Linked DNA regions of Homo sapiens. The protein of the gene in region 2 interacts with the protein of the main gene of each other region in a biochemical or structural test. Each region holds a gene or a part of one and is shown on either strand. Other genes may lie near its edges.

Region 1 (3,753 bases), on a different chromosome or scaffold from region 2:
TTTGTTTACTCCCATCAAAATGTTGCATATTTTTTCAAGCTTTCTCAAGGTAACTTAAAATCTGCCTCCTCTGAAATTTCCCCTGACTACAGATGCCAGAGCCAGCTCTTCCTCCCTTAAACTCCTAAAGATCCAGGTTATGTTGTAGTTACTATTTTATACATATGTTTATTATCTCCCCAGCCAGACTGAATTAGAATCCTCTTAGAGAAGGGAAGTAAGTTTTCTATCTCCAAAACAACTACCATTTATTGAGCATATATCACAGTCATTCCTGACAATTTATTCTGGACAATAGTTCTATGAGGCTGCTGTCATTATCTCCATTTTGTAGATGAAGAAACCAAGGGCTCAAGGATATTAGGAAACGTGCCCAAAGTTCACATAGCTGGTAAGGAGCAAAACAAGCTTTCCTCCAGCTAGCTTCATGTAACATGAGATGTATGGAATGAACAGGTACACATCTGGTAGGGGAAAGGTGGTCAGGTCAAATAAGTTAGGAGGATTAACAAAGCTAAATCACTATTTTTACTGAAGGGCTTCTCAAAGCCTTTTAACATGCTGCCAATGTGATTTATAAATTTCCAAAGGGCATATGTTATGTAATTTCCCAAATGTATTTGGGGGCTAAAATCCTTTTCAAAAGGACAATCAGCCTTATAGAACTAAAGAGTTTCATTAAGCTCCTTTCAGGAAATGTGGCAATGTGTTCTGTTGTTTTTGTACAGACCTCTGTACATAGTAGGCACTCAGTACATATTTCTTGAAGAAAACTTACTCCTCATATTAAAGTAACATGCAATCATTCCTCTTACAACAGAATGTCTGAAGTGTAATAATTATTCCACTAAACAGTATTAGAATTTTAGAAATTAATTTCATTAGATAGAATAAAAAGATGAAGAAAAATTTCTACCTGTGCTTTTATGATATGCATGAATCTTGACATCAACTCAGGACATTCAAGGAGAAAGTGAAAGTGGTCAAATATAATTTTGGGATTTCTAAAAGAAAAATATTTTGTTTAAATGGACAGGAAGAATGAGTAGCATTAAGTGAAATGCAAATTCAGATACACTGACACTGAAACAGAAGAAAAACACATAATAATCCATATCTATTAAAGTTTCATTTGTTATTGAGCATATTTTGAATAGTACGAGAAATAGTATTTTTTCTGTTTAGATGAAACTGTAAGTAAAGAGAGGAAAGGCTAGCAGGGTACTCCACAAACCCAGAAAGCTTACCTATTAACAAAGCATTTTAAAACTTCATCATGTTTGCAGACAAATTCAATGAAACGAGGTGAAGTCATTCTGTGGGGGGAAAACATCAATCAGAATACACAGGCAAAAGTTTGTGATATAATATAGCGAACTTGATAAATATATACTGAACTGGACTGGCTTCTAAACCAAAAAAAAAAGAATTTGGTTTTGAATCTTCTTTGTAAGTTTAGGAAACTGAAGTATGCCTAGCCAATTTGTAAAATGATTCTAACTTCTCATCAGCAGACGATATCAACAAGTGACTTTTTAAAAATCTTGAAATTTGGTGCATTTCTGCTCTACACATTTCAAATACATAATTAAGAGATCCTATACAAGGTGACATTCACCATTCTACAAAGTAATAATATATACTGCTTAATATTTAAATATTCCCTACTAGATCTAGATTAGTATGAGTATCTTAAAACAAGGAGAAAACTTTAAATCAACAAATTATTATTTGTTGTTTTTGAAATTACAAAAGTATCACTGCTTTTCATCATCTATCAGAGAAAAAAAAAATAATAAGCCAAAACTTTCTTACCCCGGAGGCATCTGACAAGAACAGCACATGTAAAAAGCTTGAATGACAGCACTTAGCCGGTTAGCTGTCATAGAAATAACATCCTGACAATCTGCACTGGCTTCCTGTCTCCCTGCAAGAGCATCTGGTTTAGATTCCCTTGTGCCAGTGGACAGATTTTCATAGCTCCCAGGTCCTGGAGGTTCAAATGGAGGAATGGAAGCAGCATCTTGATCTTGGCCTTTTTGTTTCAGTAAAATAGAAGTGATCTCTGTTGAGTCTCTTTTGTTTTTCATCAATTCTGTGGCTATTAAAACTAGCCATTCATCTAACGAGTGCCAAAGCAATTCCAGAGGCTGAGAGAAACAAAAGTGTTTTTTAAACATCATTCTTAAACTACAGGATTAAAAAAAAAAAAACAAAACACAACTAGACAAATATTATAGAAGAGAAAATTTACTCTAGTCATTTCTATCTTCCCAAGTTAACGTGATAGTAATGCCTAAAGGTAAGTAATAAAATTATACAAATGCTACATAAATGACAATTTCTTCATTTATGGCAATAATTTAATTTGTATGTATGTATTCCTTGTAATAAAAAGGAAAAACTAAATCTAACAAAAAATTCACAATCTTTCTTCTTTTAATTTTCAAATGTTTAGTTTTAAAAGCACACATTACTACTATATATAATCACCCTTAACATTTACTGTATTAATATGATCAATGTCAACCACTTTCAATTAAACAAATAAGATTTTTTCAGTTAAAAAATGAGAACCCCTAAGTATAATCACTCAACATTTTCTGTATTAATATGATCAATGTCAACAACTTTCAATTAAACAAATGTCTTTTTTCAATTAAAAAATGAGAATCCCTAAAGAACCTAATGAACAGCTTTTTTACTGTGCTCCTTTCATTACATATAATTCCTAGAATTTGGATAATTTTTGACAAGAAATTACAAAATGTGGCATATTTATGTATATACATATACTTACAGACACAATCCATTTCTAATAATTAGTGTTTTTTTAAAACAAGAGATACAATTACCAAACTTCTATTAAAATACTGACTAGCAGGCCGGAGATGGTGGCTCACGCCTGTAATCCCAGCACTTTGGGAGGCCGAGGTGGGTAGATCACTTGAGGTCAGGAATTCGAGATCAGCCTGGCCAACATGGTGAATTGAAATCCCATCTCTACTAAAAATACAAAAAATTAGCCAGACATGGTGGCACACACCTATAATTCCAGCTACTCGGGAGGCTGAGGCAGGACGATCACTTGAACCCAGGAGGCAGAGGTTGCAGTGAGCTAAGATCACACCACTGCACTCCAGCCTGGGTGACAGGGCGAGACTCCATCTCAAAAAAAAAAAAAAAAATACTGAGTAGCAAATTCTTAATTCCAAGTAAAGATTAACACCTTTCTATTAAAAAAAAAAAAGATGAGGAGAGAATAAACTATTTCCTATTATTATTCTAGCTGGGTACACAGGCATGCACTTGTAGTCCCAGTTACTGAGGAGGTTGAAGGGGGAGGATTGCTTGAGTCTCGGAAGTCAAGGCTACAGTGAGCTGTGATCATGTCACTATACTCCAGCCTGGGTGAAAGAGTGAGATACTGTCTCCAAAAAAAAAAAAAAAACAAACAAACAAACAAAAAAAAAAACCTGCTAGGATATTTTTAATCCCAAATAAAGATTAATAGTTTATAAGTGGTACAGTGGTTAAACAATCCCTTCATCCTACACTATTTTAAATATTCTTATTGAGAATGATTAGCTATCCTTCTGCAAATAAATATAAAAGTTTATCTCACTTTTTGAATCTGACATGATTACAGAATGCTACAAACTACACCATGTGCTACAGAAAGACTCACCTTTAAAATATTTCAAGGAAAGAAATAATCTTTCTTTTAAAGACCGCCATGGAAGGAGATTATAC
Region 2 (3,753 bases):
TCACATGAATTTAAACATTTGTATCATCAGTTAACACTCACTTTGAAAATGTTATTGGGAGGCTTGTTAAGTCAGGTGTATTTTGTGTGACTGCTCTACACTCAGGCCTTCTGGAAACCCTGCAGAGGGTAGCTCTAGTGGCCAGCTAGCTCTCTTGCTGAAAATGAGCAACATAAGTACATGAAAAACCCAACAAGTAGGATTTGAAAGCGGGGCTAATTGTACCCTTATTTCTTCTGGGGATAAAAGTCTTAAACTTTGTTTAAAGTAAAATGTTTTTATTTCTGACGGTGATTTGTTTCACTTAAATAGCTTGTTGTTTGTTTCTTTCATTTCTCTTAAGTTTTGGGTTGGGTTTGGTTTGTTTCCCGCAAGTTTTGCCCGTGCCGCCTTCCTCCTTGTGCCTGCAGGGACATTTGCTGGTGTGGCAGCCTCCAGGCCCGTCCCCAGCCTTTTTCTTGGCACACCTTCTCTAGGATGGCTGGGACAGTGACTTAGCTTCTACACCTGTGACTAACCATTTTCATTCCATTCTACAGCTTTGACAATTATTCTGCCAATGTTATGGTAGATGGAAAACCGGTGAATCTGGGCTTATGGGATACAGCTGGACAAGAAGATTATGACAGATTACGCCCCCTATCCTATCCGCAAACAGTAAGGATTGCAGCTGACTTTTAATGTGTCTTTTAGAGTATATAATTCTCGAGCGCTTAATTAGTGCATGTTACCTATGGACTTGCTTATATTGCCATCATTTGGGTATTGAGTAAATAGCAAACAGGGTGGGATTGGTTCCATGTAAACATCCCCCTAGATGCAAGCCCAGGGGTTTTGTGTTTTGAGCGTTACCAGCTGTTCCATTGTTGGGCATTTTACAGTCTTCCATTTAGCTTTAGAATAACCGTATGAAAGAGCTACTTTTTGTTTTTGCAAACCAGTTTTTAACACCAATTAGTTTGAAGGCAGGTTTGCTGTGTGACATTTTTGTACCACAGAATCAAATTAGGCAGTTAAGATTCAGGTTTCTTTAAACCAAGTTAGTAACTAATCTCACAGGTTTAATACATTTTTTCCCACAAAATACATAATTTGTATGGATTTTGTGAACCATACAATAGAACCTAAATTTATTCAATGTAGATTGAAGTTTTGGTTTTGTAAAATGTATCCACTGTGTCTAATCAGAAAAAAAAGTTTACTTTTGCTTCTGTATCAGACAACTAAGTGATTTATTTACCAAAGCTAATTAGAGCAGTAGCTGGTGAAAATGGGTACTTAGAAGACATTGTTGTCATTAAAAGTTACTTTTCTTTAAGCAGCGGTTTTACTTGTGTATCATTTGCTTATCTTGTTACATGTTTGTTCTTCATTTTTAAAAGTATCTTTGGAAGCAAAAGTTAAATATGCTTGAGATTCCTTGGGTTGATAACCTGTGTGCATGTCCTAGCTCTGTGACTTCAGGCAGGCTTCATCCTCTCTCCAGTCTTTGCCTGTTTCCTTGTAGGGTGAGATGAGTACGTGTCACGCACGCATAACAGTCCTGGGCACATAGCACACACTGTGGGGCCAGCCGCTGTCAGAATTCTCCTGTTCCTCAGTGTGCGGGTGGGTCGGCCTAAAGAGTGCTGCTTTCCACGTTGTGCCCAAATGAGTGGAAGTTGTGTGGTGCTCAGCACACCTGGGTTGGCCGGAGGGATTGGGGTTGGGGTTGGGTTGAGGTCAGGAAGACATCCTAGAGAAAGGCTGGCTTTGAGCCCTGATTGATGATGAGGCAGCCTGTGATTGATTCAACCAGTACTTCGTTGTAGGGGGTAATATGGGTGAAATAACTTAGTGGTTAAGTCTGCTGTATTAAAAATCAGTCTATAATCCCCAGACAATTCAAATTCTTCAGTATCTTAGGAAACTCTTCTATACCCAGTGGATGTTTAATAATTCAGATTGTAAATGGATTTAAAAACATACTGGCTGGTAGAGTAGGAGACTTCAGCCCACTGGACACATGTGGAAGGGTGTGGTGTCATTCTGAGAAACAAGAGCCACCCTGCTGTGACTCAGGGGGTACCGGGCAGGGTGAGGCCTCTCTAAGGAAGGCCTCACAGTAAGTCAAGGGTGACTTGGCAGGAGTCCCACTTTGTGTTCTGAGGAACACACAGATAAGGAAAGAGAACTCTCCTCAGCTTGAACAAAGCTGTAGAGTGTGACGCCTGGTATCAAAGTAGGTGTTGTCCTCATAGGGCTAGAACTTAAACTTCATGTTTCCTCTGTGTGAGACTGTGGACTGCTTTCCTATAAAATATTTGAGGAGCAAGGAGGGAGTGGGACATGGTTCTTGCCCTCAGGTAGTTCACAGAAAAGTCCCATAAACTGTGTAAGACACCCTGTGCTAGCAAGGGGGTGAGCCGGGCGCTTAAGGAGCAAGAGGGGCGAGCACCCACCCAGCAGTGGAAGCATTCCTGTCTGGACTCCTTCAGAGATAAGGAAATTATCTTGACAACTCAGGGGCAGGCCACAGATGCTCAGATACCAGTGTCTGGAAGGTCTCATCCCTTTGAGCCACACTGTCCTAAGAAGAACTGGATCTGGTAGTAACATGCTGGCACCTGGGTCTCTTGTTGATAAAGGGGAAACCTCTAAATTTTGTACTACATGGAATGTGGTCCCTGATTGCTGGCTCTGTGGTCTGCAGACCTGTTGATGTAGCTCATCCAAGACTGCTTAGACACTCTCCTGAAGGACCAGTTGGAAGATTTCTTATCTAGGGTGTCCTAAAAAGAGATGTTACATTTCTTGTGGTCATTTAACATTGGCATCCTCTCTATTGGGCAGCTCTGTCGGGCTAAGTCTGTTCAGACCATTCATTTCTTCTTCGTTCTCCAAAAGATGGTGAGCAGGTAGTCGCCATTCTTAGTTGAAATTGCCCTTCAGGTTTTTATTTCCCGAATTACGTAATCCTTACATTATTTTCTCTTGAAAATCTTTGCTAAGTTCTGCATACTCATCTTCAGTTGCTATGCACAGAATCAAGTCTTGTCAGAGTAACGCTCAAGTCCAGCATCTTCCCTTGTGTAGATCACCTGTATTTATTTGCCTGCTTGTACCAGCATTGGTGGTGTGAGTGGGAGCCTAAGTGACCTGTCAGTGTCACAGCGAGTCCTGAGCCCTGTGTGTGTCCTGAGACTCAGGCTGTGCAGCGGGTTCGCTGAGATGCTGAGCCTCCATGTTGGGGTCAGCCAGGACCCCAGTGCGTCATGCCAGTTGTTTCATTTTCTCTCTAGGCTAAAAGTTGTTGTTGTTGTTGTTGTTGTTTGAGACAGAGTTTCGCTCTTGTTGCCCAGGCTGGAGTGCAATGGTGTGATCTTGGCTCACTGCAACCTCCGCTTCCCAGGTTCAAGTGACTTTCCCGCCCTAGTCTCTCAAGTAGCTGGGACTACAGGCATGTGCTACCATGCCTGGCTAATTTTGTTTTGTATTTTATTTTTTTTGAGACGGAGTCTTGCTCTGTCGCCCAGGCTGGAGTGCAATGGTGCGATCTTGGCTCACTGCAAGCTTCACCTCCTGGGTTCACGCCATTCTCCTGCCTCAGCCTCCCAAGTAGCTGGGACTACAGGCGCCCGCCACCACACCTGACTAATTTTTTATATTTTTAGTAGAGACGGGGTTTCACCATGTTAGCCAGGATGGTCTTGATCTCCTGAGCTTGTGATCCGCCCGCCTTGGCCTCCCCAAGTGCTGGGATTACAAATTTTG
Region 3 (3,753 bases), on a different chromosome or scaffold from region 2:
AGGCACTCAAGTATTTGTTGAATGAATAATGTAAGATGATTTAATTCTATGTATTGCCAGCTGCGACATTGGGGTTTTACTCAAGAACCGTTCTCAGAATGAATAGGAATCATGGTCCAATGTGCAAATCCAAGGGGATCCTAACATTTTTGGGGGATTCATTTTAGGTTGAGCTTTTCCCTTTATGTGTCTCCAACCAAAGCCTGCAAGAATTTTTAGCCTAGTCTTTTGTTCGTTTGTTTGTTTTAACCACCACCTGAAAACTGCTGTTGCAATATTCCAAGCCAGGATTGTTTCTTTTGAATTTGCAAGTTGGTTTTGCAAGTCTAAATAAGCACTCTTAACTTTTGAGTCTTTTAACTTAAAACTGTCTCTTCCTGGTCTCCTGTGGTTTTTGTCTTTCTCTGGTGATACTTAAAGCTATATAGGGCCTGTTTGACTCCACACAAAGGTTTCTCTTCCTTGTCAAGCTCTTAAAATGCTTTGTTTCTTTCACTTTCTTATTAGCCCTAAGATACCATGCCCAGTTTTCTCCTTTCCTAGCTTCCTTCTGGGAGAGTGGCTTCAATTATTCATCCGTTTACTATAAAATTATGAGTCCTTCTCCACCATGTGCCAGACCCTGTGCTGGGCAGGATGTTCAGCTATATACAAGAGTGCAGCCCAAGTCTTTAAGGAGCTAGAGATAATATGACATGATAAGTGCTGAAATGAAGAGATGAAATAGAGGGATGAAAAAAGGTGGTATATGATCATAAAGGGGGGGAGAAAGCTGCCTTTCTATTTGTTTCCCTCAGTTTAGGAATAATTTGTCAAACAAGCATCATTTTGACAGGCAGACTTTTAAAAAATTTTAAGAGGTCATGGGCTTTGTTGGGGAAAACTAAAACAAAAATCAAGGTGGAATCAGCAGTTGCCAATTTGAGACATTAATTCTGTTGTTGCTGGTTTTAATGAATTTTCTGATCCCTCTCCATGTTATTTTTCTAAATAATAACCAGAAAGTGGGAGAAAAATATTTCTTTTTGGCATAGTAAAGAGACAAGTTTAAGGTTATCAAAAGAATACATCTCACTACAGTTTATTGTTTATTTTTGAAAAGCGATAAACAATATGCATCTAAAAACGAGGCTTTTGACTGTTTATGATAAAGAAATGATAAATGTTTGGAGTGATGAATATGCTAATTATCCTGATTTGATTATTACGAATTATATACATCTCAAAATATCATAAATATGTACAATTATTACATATCAACTAAAAATAAAAGGAAAAATGCATTGATTCAAAATTAATAGTCAGTATATTCAAACTTGAAAATAAAAAATTTAAAAACATTCTCCCACACCAGTGTTTGCTCCTTCTGGGTCATTTTCTATGCCCATTATTAAAAAAAAAAAAAAAGTCTCTTCACAGATGTTTTAATTTCTAAGGGGTAATGTTGTAATTTGTAGTGGGTGAAAATGAAACCCTGGAAAAGTTAGGAGACCTTCTTTAGTGTCTATGTTACTGCATGACCTTGTAGAAGTAATTTTTATCTCTGTGTTTTGTCCCAACTGTAAAATGGGGATAGTAATAGTTGCTACGACTAGTTTACAGGATCATGAAGCAATTAAAATAATGACTATAAAGGAATCTTTGAAAAGTATAATTTGCTTGTTAGTTGTTAGGTGGTGGTAAGCTTACTAAAAATGGCTTATGTTACTGAATACCTGTTCTGTACCAGGCCCTATATGAGATGTTTAACATGTTCTTTTTAACCCTCAGAATAACCTTATGAGATGATTGCTGGTATCTCTGTATCATAGGTGAGGAAACCTGAGAGTCATACTAGTAAAGGGAGCTTATTTAAGGTTTTGCTGCAAGTAAGTGGCAGACCAACAATTCTAGTCCATGTGCACCTGACTCCAGCAGCTATGTGCTATTTTCAGTACAGAGGCTGCTTTTAATGTTTCTGCACAGAGGATATAGGAATGTTTTGCAAGTAAATATATTGCAGTGAGAGTTAAAGTTTCCATTTGGTATGTTTTTTTTGTGTGTGTATTAGAAGGCTTGGTGAAGACAGATTTACATTCGTTTACATTTATCATTCATACAGGAAAAATAACATCTTTCCTGGATGTTATTTTGTTCAATCTTCGTAACAGCCCTATGAGATAGGTATTCCCATTTTACGAGTTAGCAGGCTGAGGATCATATTAATAGAAGTCTTGGCTTGCTCAGAGGCACATCATTAATGAATGCCTGAATATTGATTTTAAACCACATTTTAAAATTCTAAGTGTAGTACTTTACTTTGCCACTATAACATATTGCCTTTTAAACTCTATCAAACTAAATTTTGGGGCACTAGACACATTCTTTTAAATTGGTTCCTAATCTCTTTAGCTTCTTCTCCCTAAGAAAACCCTGACTGAAGTCCACAGTTTGAACTAGAAAGGATAATTGCTGATAAAACTCTATGTCAGATGGTCATGATGTTGCAGACTTAGAAGATAATACCTCTTTACTGAAGCTGCCAGATCAGGCTTTATCCAGTATTTGGAATCACTTGTGCCTGAATATTTCCCTGTGCCATCGTAAATTTATTAACTTAATGTGCTACATTTTTCTACCCTTTTTGTAAGCCTTTTCTTTCATGAATATCTTCCTCTTCTCTCCCATTCTTTTAGTTTTTGAGATGGGGAAAGTCATGTATATGCTAGGCTTCTCCGGATTATCCCTTCTTGAGGAATAGTGTAGTAGTAAGTCTAGAAAGAACCAGAGGTTCATTCATCCCTCATGAGTTTTCGTGGTATTGATTGACTGTAGAATTCATCTAATTCTTAAGTCCATTATGTCTTGGCTTTTGTTCCTGGAGTCAGAGTTAGGTAATTTGCATGCAGGATTGGGAAATCCATTCTTGTTTATGGGCTGCTTTCTTTTATTACTTTTCTACTTCCAGCCTTCTCCAATATCCCTTTCCCTTTCAGACTGTTAAGTACTAACTGAGGCTGGCAAGAGCATTTTCTAATTTATAGAATCTGCCTTTTGAATCTTTTGGGATGGCAAATGACAATGACAGTATATGCATGGCTTCCACCCTCATCTGCCTGCCTATATCTTTAAGGTCCAGCTTTCCTTATTTCCTCCTGGATTCCCACAAAGCTAAGATTGATGTCTTCCTCACTGGTGGAACCCTTGATTTGTGTATTACTGCACTTACCAAGGGAGGGTTTAAGGAAGAGCACAAAATTTGAAGTTAGACAAAGAGCTACTTGGACACTTATTTAAATCTCTATTTGTTCATTTGAAAGAAATAATACCTAACTTACAGAATTCTTGTGAAGATTAATAATATATGTAAAAGTGAATTGTAAGATACTGAGCTATATAGATGTTAGGTAGAGTAGTTTGTAATTTTATGACTATGATTGTGTGTAGCAGTGGTTTTAATTTCGGCTATGCACTTGAATTACTTGTGAAGATGTAAAGAGTTGCCTTGGCATCTCTATTTTGAAAGGTTTATAGGTGATTCTGATATGCAAAGTTGAGAAGCACTGCCTTATATTAACAATGTTTTGCATAAATGTCTTATGTAAGTATTATATGAAAAGTAATATTTTATTGCCATTTAAAGTTCATTCATTTGCTAAATACATATTATGCATCAGGCATTGTCATAGGTTCTGAATAAACAGATGAATCATAGCCTCTACCCTTGGGTTTATAGTTTCCGGGAGAAACAGACATGTGCATAGACAATTACAC

Evidence for each region.
Region 1: of the proteins of RAC1 (region 2) and HACE1, one has a biochemical effect on the other in vitro, tested with the Homo sapiens proteins (5 studies listed by BioGRID and IntAct, with this or other methods).
Region 3: the proteins of RAC1 (region 2) and PAK1 form a complex in vitro, tested with the Homo sapiens proteins (17 studies listed by BioGRID and IntAct).

The regions. Positions count from the first base shown.
Region 1 is NC_000006.12:104,783,170-104,786,922, forward strand, and holds part of HACE1 (E3 ubiquitin-protein ligase HACE1), read right to left. Parts: intron 2,151-3,753; coding exon 1,816-2,150; intron 1,317-1,815; coding exon 1,248-1,316; intron 1,005-1,247; coding exon 917-1,004; intron 1-916. UniProt on the Homo sapiens protein: E3 ubiquitin-protein ligase involved in Golgi membrane fusion and regulation of small GTPases. Acts as a regulator of Golgi membrane dynamics during the cell cycle: recruited to Golgi membrane by Rab proteins and regulates postmitotic Golgi membrane fusion.
Region 2 is NC_000007.14:6,391,385-6,395,137, forward strand, and holds part of RAC1 (ras-related C3 botulinum toxin substrate 1), read left to right. Parts: intron 1-539; coding exon 540-657; intron 658-3,753. UniProt on the Homo sapiens protein: Plasma membrane-associated small GTPase which cycles between active GTP-bound and inactive GDP-bound states.
Region 3 is NC_000011.10:77,467,342-77,471,094, reverse strand, and holds part of PAK1 (serine/threonine-protein kinase PAK 1), read left to right. Parts: intron 1-3,753. UniProt on the Homo sapiens protein: Protein kinase involved in intracellular signaling pathways downstream of integrins and receptor-type kinases that plays an important role in cytoskeleton dynamics, in cell adhesion, migration, proliferation, apoptosis, mitosis, and in vesicle-mediated transport processes.